2 separate regions of the Homo sapiens genome follow, and region 2 is linked to region 1. The links come from fine-mapping of genetic effects on plasma protein levels. A gene starts in region 1. The other region holds a variant in brackets. All regions are shown on one strand. Distances are from middle to middle.

Region 1 (5,379 bases):
AGGCTCTAGTACCCATTTCCTAAATTCAAATTTTGTTACATCACTTTTTAGTGGTGTAACTTTTGGCAAATTATTTAATTTTGCACACATCAGTTTCTTCATCTGAAAAATAGGGACTATAATATAACCATGCACATAAATAACTTAGAACAGTGCCTGGTGCTGGCCAGGCATGGTGGCTGACACCTGTAATCCGAGTACTTTGGGAAGCCGAGGTAGGTGGATCGCTTTAGGTCAGGAGTTCAATACCAGCCTGACCAACACAGTGAAACCCTGTCTCTACTAAAAATACAAAAATTAGCCGGGTGTGGTGGCACCTGCCTGTAATCCCAGCTACTTGGGAGGCTGAGACATGAGAATCACTTGAATCTGTGGGGTGGAGGTTGCAGTGAGCTGAGATTGCACCACTGCACTCTAGCCTGGGCAACAGAGTGAGACTCTGCCTCCAAAAAAAAAAAAAAAAAAAAAAAAAAAGGGATAGTGCCCAATGCTGCTGAGTAAGCATCAGTAAATGTTAGCAATGATGACTCTACCCCGTTTGATTACATTAAGGAGAAAAAAAATCATCTTTAGAAAACAAATTAAAACATCACTTGAAAGTTTTTAATTAAACTTTTTTTTTTTTTTAAATAGAGATGGGGGTCTCACTATGTTGCCCAGGCTGGTCTTGAACTCCTGACCTCAAGCAATCCTCTTACCTCGGCCTCCCACAGTGCTGGGATTACAGGCGTGAACCACAGTACCCGGCTAAAGAAACATCACTCTTAACAAAGAGAGAGCAGGCCTCAGGTTTTGAGCCAACTGCAATATCTAGCTAAAATTTAATAATACCTTTTTTTAATTGAGTTTATTTTTTACTATTACTTTCTATTGAATTGTTTTCTATTTAGTGTACTGTTGTAAAGTTTCCTTTTTCAATTAACTTGTTAAATAAAATGAAGTGAGCCATCTCAAAGAAATAGGTTAAGTAAATTATAAGTGATATACAGATTTGGCAAACAAACAAACAAAAAAGACAGAAGTAGCACTTGAATTATGAAAACTTTCTCCCCAAAATCTTTATACCATGCATTCTTCTACCTCCATGCCCTCACTCAAGCCATTCCCTCTACCTGACTTCTACCTCCATGCCCTTCACTCAATGACTTCCTGTTGAAATCCTTAATAAATTAATTTAAAAATCAAACTTTACAACACTACTATAAATGACAAAACCAACCTTCAAAACCAAAGGACTACCTCTCACAAGGAACCTTCCTAAATCTTCTTTTTCCTCTTCCACCCCAAGTTAAAATCAATTTGTCTTTTTTCTCCTTTACTCCCTACCCCACTTGCCCTCTCACTTCTACTGCATTTTATTTATTTCCAAGTTTTCTATAATAATTCCTGTTCTGCCACATCTCAGTGCCTTTTCTCACAGCAGTAGGTTTAAAGGAGGGAGCTGTTGATGGGGCTCTTTTCAGTTGGGAGAGAGGCAGACCAAGTATGAAGCTAATGAAAGAAGTTGGTCATAAAGGACTGCATGTTTTATGATTCAATTTATAGGAAATGTCCACAACAAGCAAATCCATGAAGATGCAAGTAGATTGTCAGGGGCCGGGGGAGAGGAGAATGGGGAGTGAATGCTAATGGGGATGGGATTTATTTTTGGGGTGATGAAAATGTTCTGAAGAAAGTGGTGATGGCTGCACAACTCTGTGAGTATGGTCAAAACCACTGAATTGTACATGTTAAAGGGGGTGAATCTTACGGTACGTGAATTATATCTCAATAAAGCTGTTACCAAGAAAACAAAAACGACCCCCTCCCCCAAAACAAAACACAGGGTCTGAAGGCTTCTAACTGGGGAGAGCTTTCTGGCAGGCTGTGCTCCGCAGCGAGGCAGCCCCAGAACGAGCAAAGTCCCATGGAGTGCAGGTTCCTGGTCCCATCGTGGCTCCCAACTCTCTGTGGGTCTTCGGGCGCGTTGCTTACTTTCCAGGCTCAATTTCCTTGCGTGTTAGCTGGGGCTCCGGCCCGGAGTGGCCCCAACCCCGAATCCCCGAACCCGCACGCCCTGGGTCCGACACAGCTTCCACCAGCCACGTTACCTGTAGGGTCCAATGGCCCCTGGGGCTTTCGCGGTGCTGATCACCCTTCTGATCAAGGACGACATGGCTAAGCCTTCCCTCTTGCAGCCCCTTCAGGAGAAGAAGCCCCAGCACCAGCCCTGCTGGCTTCTTACTGGACTGACCAACCACAGCAGCGCCTCTGCCCCACAGCTCCCGCTGGGGGCGGGCTCGTGCGGCATTCTGGGAACTGTAGTTTCGGCGACGCTCCAGGCCACGTGGAGGAAGCGCCCGGTCTGGCGCATGCGCTCTCCAGCGCGCTCTCCAGGAGCTTTGGCTCGGTGGGTACTGTCGCGGAGGCTTGTCATTCTGACCCGGGGATTCCTCACAGCGTCTGGCAGGTTGGTCGTGAGGGGCTGGTGCCTTCCAGGATGCGAGTGTCGGGGGAACTGTATGCGGCGGCCCCCCTCCCGGCGCCCGTCTCCCCTCTTCATCGTTTCTCTCTCAGACTCCGCTGACCTCTTTCCTTGCTGCCTGTGCCCGGGGCCCCTCTCCCTGGTGTCGCATCTCCTTCGGCCCCTGCGCTGGAGCCCCCTACGTCAGTCATTTCCCTTCATTGCCCCGCCGGGTGGAGGCCGTCCTGGGAATGGGCTTGCATCCCCTCTTCTGCAACCCCAAATGACTAATATGGGTCATTCTGGCGACCACGCTGAGATCTGGGCGTTGGTCCTCCCGTGTTCCCTTTCCTGCTCCTCCTGTGTTCCCTTCTCTAGGGTGCTCCTCGGGCTTTACAAGGTCACTGTCTGAACAGAGCCCTAGTGATTGGGATATCATTTCAGAAAGAAAGATGGTGATCTGGAATGGCCCAGATCCCTTGTAAGTATTCTGCTGTGTCAGAAGGGGTGGTACTTGGCTAAATATTTCTTATCCTGTTAATATTTGCATTGTAAGTACGCTTCGTTTCTTCATTTATGCGGGCACTCATAGATATATGAGTCCCTACTTTGTGTAAGGCACTCTGCTAGATGCTAGGAGGAATGCAACAGTTAAAAAAAATAATAATAAAATCTCTGCCTTCCCTGCTTCCTAAAGATAATACAAGAAAATCTGCTTTATTCCCTCTCATTTTGTCCTACATACTGCTAAGGTTTTGGCCTTCCTACTTCCGGCTCAGGAACCTTCTGATCTTTTTCATTGGTTTGGGGCCTGGAATAAAAGACCTTTCAGTCTGGCCTCCCCTTGCCTATTCAAGTTTCATTGTCATCTACTCCCTTTTCCCACTAGAGTCCTCCTGTATTCACACTGTGGATTCCTGAATACTCTTTCTTCCTTATCTGTGCAAATTCCAGCTAACTGAAATTCTATTTTCTCTTTGACTTTTCCTACCAATTCACATTTTTTTCTTTTTCTTCTTTCCTTCCTTTCCTTTTCTTTTTCTTTGTTTTCTTTCTTTCAAGACAGGATCTCACTCTGTCACCCTGGCTGGAGTACAGTGGCATGATCTTGGCTCACTGAAACCTTGACCTCCTGGGCTGAAGCAATCCTCCAGCCTGAGCATCTCAAGTAGTTGGGATTACAAGTGCACACCAGCACGCCCGGCTAATTTTTGTATTTTCTGTGGAGACGGGGCTTCTTCATATTGGCCAGGCTGGTCTCCAACTCTTGGGCTCAAGCAATTCTCCCACCTCAGCCTCCCAAAGTGCAGGGATTACAGGTGTAACCATTATGCCCGGCCTCATTTTTTTTCTTTCCCTTGTCCTGTTTCCTATTGTGCTGTACCGCATAATTTAGTATTTTATTATATGAGATCCTATTTTCTAATTGTTATGTGTTTCAAGAATAGTGGATTGGAGAGGGAAGGGGTGGAAAAAAAAAAAAGAATAGTGGATAGAGTCAGACTGCCTGGTTTGAATCTCAGCACAATCACAAGCTTAGTAGCCTTGGACTGGTATATAAAATCTCTGTGCTTCGATTTCTTCATTTATAAGATGAGAATAATACTAGTGACCACAGAGTTGTGAGAATTAAATGAATAAGTCATGTAGAATAGTGCCTGCCACATCAAGTTCTCAATGCTGCCTAAGATGACAAAATTCTTATTCTACTTTGGAATTATACACAGCCTGAAACTATTGGGCACATAGTAGGTGCCCAAAAGTTTATTAAATCTGATTAAACTAGATAATTAAGACATATTTTTATTTACAAAATAATTCACCATTTAAGTTTTTAAATAAGAAGCTATTTTGGAGCATTACAAATGATTCAACTTGTGTAAAATATTTCTTGTGAAACAAGGTACCTTTATTCTTAAGACAGATTTTATATCAAGTCTGAATCACCAACTTTTTAGATCTGGAAGAAAATAGACATCATCTAGTTAGTTCCCAGGTTCTCAAACTGGGAACTAACTAACACCAAAGGTTGTGTCTGGCCAGAGGATACTAAGCTGTATCAGAAAACATAACGTATCCATTTTATTTGAAGATTTGGCGAAAATATTTTTATAAAGGCAGCACATATTTAGTGCTTATTAAAGTTTGACAAAACTGACTTGAAGGTGAAGGTAAGAGTTAAGATTCCTTCTGGAAACTTTTTTTTTTGAGACAGGGTCTTGCTCTGTCACCCAGGCTGGAGTGCAGTAATGTGATCAAGGCTCACTCACTGCAGCCTTGACCTCCCTGTCTCAAGCGATCTTCCCACTTCAGCCTCCCGAGTAGGTGGGACCACAAGCTCATAACTATGCCTAGCTTATTTTTTGATTTCTTTGTAGGGATGAGTTCTCACTATGTTGCTCAGGTTGGTTTCTCCTGAGCTCAAGCAATCCTCCCGCCTTGGCCTCCCAAAGTGCTGGGATTATAGATGTGAACCACCACACCAGGCCTCTGGAAACTTTTAAATTAAATCCTCAGACTTCATAAAGATGCATCCTATATTCATTCCCTTCTGCTGTTAGAGGACCACTGCCAGTTTGATTTCCTCATATTTTAGTCTGGACCCAAAGCTCAGGGATGTTCCCAAGGTTATCCTAATCCTCCAGCACCAACCTTTTCTTGGACCATTCTAATACTGAGGGGAGCTAGAGTTTCTATGGTGTTCTTGTCTAGCCTTGCTGGTGAGTTCTGATTCAAGCAGGTAACAGTAGGTTAACTAAGTTGTTTTGTAAAATATTTGGAATGGCTTTTAATGCAGACCGATCTGAATCATGTGCTTCACTAGCCAGCCAGTTCTGCAGAACTCCATTTACTTCCTTCATACTGTTTAATTTGAAAAATGTTTTTGCATGTAGATATAGCTGTCTTTCATTTAGTTGAAATTAGTGGAGTGAGAC
Region 2 (5,379 bases), 12 kb before region 1:
CATAAATTTTCTTTAGTAGAAACTGCAAGTGGAAGTCAGTAAGAGCTGCTTTTTTATAGGCAGGAATATTGTGCTGCTAAGCTTTGAGTTAAAAGTAGCAAAATCAAAATGGTGAGAAATATGTGTGCCCCTGGTTTAGAGATTATTTTTCTAGTGGAAGGCTTAGATTTTTAATTGTACAATATCCAGGTGAAATTTTTACTGCAGAACTCACAAACAAACCTGGCTCAAATTTATAGTCCCCTAAGTAACACTACAACAGTACAGCTGCTATTTTATTTTTTCTCACAATTTTTTTTTTTTTGTGATGGAGTCTCGCTCTGTCGCCCAGGCTGGAGTGCAGTGGCGCGATTTCGGCTCACTGCAAGCTCTGCCTCCTGGGTTCATGCCATTCTCCTGCCTCAGCCTCCCGAGTAGCTGGGACTACAGGCGTCCGCCACCACACCCGGCTAATTTTTTTTTGTATTTTTAGTAGAGACGGGTTTCACCATGTGAGCCAGGATGGTCTCGATCTTCTGACCTTGTGATCCGCCCGCCTCGGCCTCCGAAAGCGCTGGGATTACAGGCGTGAGCCACCGCGCCTGGCCTTTTCTCACAATTTAAGTATTTTGATTCTGATTCTATGTTCATGTGCTGTCTTAAAAGGTTTCTTAATTTTTTTTTCATGCATGTAATATGGGATATTTCCTTTCAGACTTTAAGTCCCTGGGGAAGCAGGGTCTATTTCTTTTCTTTTTTTTTTTTTTTTTAAGAGACAAGGTCACACTGTTACCCAGGCTGCAGCACAGTGGTTCGATTATAGCTCACTGCAGCCTTGAACTCCTGGGTTCAAGTGTTCCTCCCACCTCAGCCTACCAAGTAGCTGGGACTATAGGTGTGCACCACCACCATGCATGGCTAATTTTAAATTGTTTTTGTAGGGATGGCTGTCTTGCTATGTTGCCCAGGCTGGTCTAGAACTCCTGGCCTCAAGCGATCCTCCTGTGTTGGCCTCTCAAAGCACTGGGATTACAGGGGTAAGCCACCCTGCCCAGGCTACTTCTTTTAAGTTTCCTTTCACAGTGCTTAGTTTACTTATAGAAGGAAAACAATGTAGAAACTGAAAACTGTGTACATTAGTCATTTAAAGTGTACTTACTTTGGGTAAAGCAGCAACTTGGTAAGCAGCTCTAGCAGGAAAATTACTCTTGAAATCTGAATTTAAAAGAATTTCATTTTTTTAATAGAGAAGAGTTGAAAAAATAAAGATCAAGTGAAAATTTTTATTTTAGTTTTCAGATATTCTATTGTTATTCAATATCTACAATTAATAATCTGGCAAATATTTCATATACTAGTCAGTTCTTAGATATAAGCAACATTTATTTTTATTTTTTTGAAACAGAGTCTTGCTCTATCGCCCAAGGCTGGAGTGAAGTGATGCGATCTCAGCTTACTGCAACCTCTGTCTCCCATGTTCAAGAGATTCTCCTGCCTCAGCCTCCCGAGTAGCTGGGATTACAGGTGTGCACCACCATGCCTGGCTCATTTTTGTATTTTTAGTAGAGTCGGGGCTTCACCATGTTGGCCAGACTGGTCTCAAACTCCTAATGTCAAGTGATCCACCCACCTCAGCCTCTCAAAGTGCTGGGATTATAGGTGTGAGCCACTGCTCCTGGCCTTAAGCAACATTTTAAAAAAGAGGCTCACTATCAGATTTGTTTGATAAAATATTTTGCCATATGATTCCTATGATAGTTAATACTTTTTAAAATCTCTTAGCTTTCTGGCAAAAAAAAAAAAAAAAAAAAAAAAGAAATACATACCCTAACATTTTGATCTTGTTTGATGTGAATGGAGTTTTGTTTTTAAAGTGATATTTATAAACTATTTATCTAAATAGGGAACAAGTGCCCATCTCCAGAAATTTTGGCAAGTACTTCCTCTGCCAACTTTGGTCTTTTCTAATAATTTCTTCAGGAGAGAATAAGTAACGATGCTTTTTCCAAGTTATACCTTTGCCTCATCCCATTAGGTGTTGGGGACACCAATTTTCCCTACTATAACATCAATGTTAATAATAGCTAACATTTACTCAGTGCTTATAACACACCAGCATCTAAGTGCTTTACATGTTGTACTGACTCATTTAATCATTCCAACAACCCTATAAGTTAGGAGTATATTATCTCCATTTTGCATATGAGAAAACCAAGGCATAGAAATATTAAGTAACTAACTAATGAGTCTGAGAGAGCCAGGATAAAGATGGTGGCTGCACCATACAGCCACAGTAAATAAAATCTATGCATAAAAAACTTGTTAGGAGAGTTTAAAAAGCCTGAGAAGGATTTAATGAAATTAAGCTTTTGAAAAATGGATATGTAGGATTTCAGTATATTGTTTTAGGGAATGCAATAGAAATGTCTTAGAACTTTTTCATGGGGGGTATACAACATATTTCCAATCAGATTATTAATTCTTTTAAGATCTATGACCATTTCTTTAGCATCTCCTACCACTCTTAATTCATAATGCACATTCATTAATGTGACCAGATTTCTTTCTTTTTAAAAATGGAAAATAGGAATAAAGCCAAATTACTTACACTGTTTGTAGATTTCATTGACAGTATTGAAGTCATTTATGTCAGCCAGAAGAACAGTTGTTTTCACCACTAGAAGATATAAACATTGTCATTAGGTTTAGTTATTTGGTCTGACCCAAAACATTACTTAGAAAAAGAGTGTATGAATCTGAGACTGTCTTGATTAAAATGGGACTGAAATGGGACCAAAGAAGTGAAGTAGAACAGTTGCTATTTAAAACAACTTTTAAATAGCAACAAAGATATGGCACGGCATCTTACTGGATGCCATATATTTTTCAAAAAGACCAAAGAAATATCAAAAAGAAATGTGAAATAATATCAAATTGCTCACCGTTAGTGAAGTCACAGCCTGCAGCTTTCAGAATTTCACCCATGTTTTTAAGAGCCTGTGAACCAAGCCAAGAAAGGCCTAAGTCACTGATGTTAGATTTAAAGCTTTAATTAAATTCAATT[A/C]ATCATCTTTTACTAATACCTCCTTAAATAGCCTATGTTGCAGAAAAATCCTCCCTACTCGCTTACAAGTGTGTTTCTTGGCTTTCCTTTAATAGAATGAGTCTTTCTGATATATGGTGAAAATGTTGTCTCCTTTTGTGCGTAAAAAGACTAGGTTGAAGTTCCTTCTTCAGTGCTAAAATGTGTTAATTGTTCAGCCAATGTCCACAGAAATAATTTCTGGTGTTCTTCATTCGATATCACGTCAAGGATAAGGATGAGCTAGTAAGCATTAAAACATATTTTCTTTTAAAGCAATATTTGACTTCAAAGGGTTCTTTTTCCTTTTTCTCAAAAAAACAATATTAGTAAATTATATAACAGTTGGAGACACTGGCTTCTGGAAAAACATTTATCTTTTTTTGGATTCACTCTTCCCACTTTGCTGGTCACAATGCAATATTTCATTATATTCTTGTGTCTTTTAAAATAATCTTCTAAATAGGTAATACATGGATATGGCAACAACAACAACAAAAAAACTCAAAAGCTATTAAAAAAGCATATACCGTGTAAAGATATCTCTCACCCCTCTCTCCCTCTCCCAAGTTTCCCTCCTCAGAGGTAACCACTGTTCCTAATTTATTGTATATCCTTCTAGGTACAGTCAATGCTTATGTTACATATTTTTAAACACACAAGCACACATGGTAGCATACTGTGCATGTTGTTCTGCATCTTGGTTTTATTACCATGGAACAATTTACCTCGGAGATCTTTCCACATTACTTTAGTTGTATTGATCTAGCATAATTTATTCAACCAGTTCTTTATGAGTGGATATTTAGGTTTTTAAAAATCTTTCAGCTAGGCCGGGTGTGGAGGCTCATGCCTGTAATCTCAGCACTTTGGGAGGCTGAGGTGGGTGGATCATGAGGTCAGGAGATCGAGACCATCCTGGCTAGCACGGTAAAACCCCGTCTCTACTAAAAATACAAAAAATAAGCCAGGTGTGGTGGCGTGTGCCTGTAGTCCCAGTTACTTGGGAGGCTGAGGCAAGAGAATTGCTTGAACCTGGAAGACAGAGGTTGCAGTGAGCTGAGATCACGACACTGCACTCCAGCCTGGGCGACAGAGCAAGGCTGTCTCAAGAAACAAAACAAAACAAAACAAACTTTCAGCATTATATGACTCAGTAAATGCAGTAAATTATAGTTTATTGTTTTATTTTATTTTATTTTTTGAGACAGTGTCTTGCTCTGTGTCCCAGGCAGGAGTGCAGTGGCACGATCTTGGCTTCCTGCAACTTCCACCTCCCAGGTTTAAGCGATTCTTCTGCATCAGCCTCCTGAGTAACTGGGACTACAGGCATGTGCCACCTGACTGGGTTACTTTTTTTTTCTATTTTTTTTTTGAGACAGGGTTCTTGCTCTGTTGCCCAGGCTAGAGTGGAGTGGCACAATCTCAGCTCACTGCAACCTCCGCCTTCCGGGTTCAAACGATTCTCATGCCTTAGCCTCCCGAGTAGCTGGGACTACAGGCACATGCCACCACACCTGGCTAATTTTTGTATTTTCAGTAGAGACGGGGTTTCACCATGTTGGCCAGGCTGGTCTTGAACTCCTGACCTCAGGTGATCTGCCCGCCTCGGCCTCCCAAAGTGCTGGGATTACAGGTGTGAGCCATTGTGCCTGGCCTCCCCCAACTAATTTTTGTATTTTTAGTAGAGATGGGGTTTCACCATGTTGTCTAGGCTAGTCTTGAACTCCTGACCTCAAGTGATCTGCCAGCCTCGGCCTCCCAAAGTGCTAGGATTACAGGTGTGAGCCACATCGTGCCTGGCCTAAATTATGGTTTAATTATATTTATTGGATTAAAATTATATTCCCCATTCTTATTTTTAAAAATGTTGACTTTTTACTTCTGTGGTGGTAATTTTTTTTTTTTTTTGAAGAGGGGCAGGTCAGTGGCCCTGAGAAGAAAATTTCCCAATCCATGTGGAAGTGGCAACATGTCATCTGACGTCAATAATTCAGGTTTAAGGTCACCTTAGTGTTAAGGAGGTGGAATCTCTCTTTTGGTTGTTAGATGATTCATGATCCATCAAATTTCCAACTCTTAGATCAAAAACTATGTTAAATCAAGCAGTAAGTAGTTTAAAAAACATTTATCTGTTAATCTCTATAAAACAAATCAGGCAAGTGGATTCTTAATGCTCTTCAACATTAAAAAGGTAGTAGAAAAGGGAACCTTAAATGTGGAAAATAACTTACTTGTTTAGCTTCTTCTGCTACCCCTCCTGACACAAGCTGTCCACTTGAAGGGTCCATGCCTATCTGTCCTGAAATGTAAATGGT

Alleles and levels. Alleles are on the strand shown, and positions count from the first base shown. The strength of an association depends on the size of the effect and on how common the allele is.
For the plasma level of the protein whose gene starts at base 2,230 in region 1, allele A in region 2 goes with a higher level than allele C (moderate association).

The links. A credible set is the group of variants that fine-mapping cannot tell apart. PIP is the chance, under the fine-mapping model, that this variant and not a neighbour inherited with it causes the effect. The UK Biobank Pharma Proteomics Project read protein levels with antibody pairs (Olink). The fine-mapping took linkage between variants from a reference panel, not from the people measured, so its PIPs are less certain.
Region 2: its variant is the best candidate, but not a certain one, in a credible set for the plasma level of the RIDA protein (UK Biobank, PIP 0.71).

What each region holds. Positions count from the first base shown.
Region 1 is chr8:98,114,942-98,120,320 of GRCh38, forward strand. RIDA (reactive intermediate imine deaminase A) reads right to left here and starts at 2,230. Exons shown (of 6, transcript NM_005836.3): 1 at 2,091-2,230. The coding sequence starts at 2,155. It overlaps POP1 (POP1 ribonuclease P/MRP subunit), which reads left to right and starts at 2,352. Exons shown (of 16, transcript NM_001145860.2): 1 at 2,352-2,449. RefSeq lists enhancers at 2,335-2,384, 2,455-2,624.
Region 2 is chr8:98,103,351-98,108,729 of GRCh38, forward strand. RIDA (reactive intermediate imine deaminase A) reads right to left here. Exons shown (of 6, transcript NM_005836.3): 2 at 5,296-5,379; 3 at 2,922-2,976; 4 at 2,588-2,656; 5 at 1,139-1,194. Among named protein-coding and RNA genes, the nearest start is that of RIDA, 11 kb to the right of the region's middle. The variant A/C (reference allele first, on the strand shown) is at 3,044.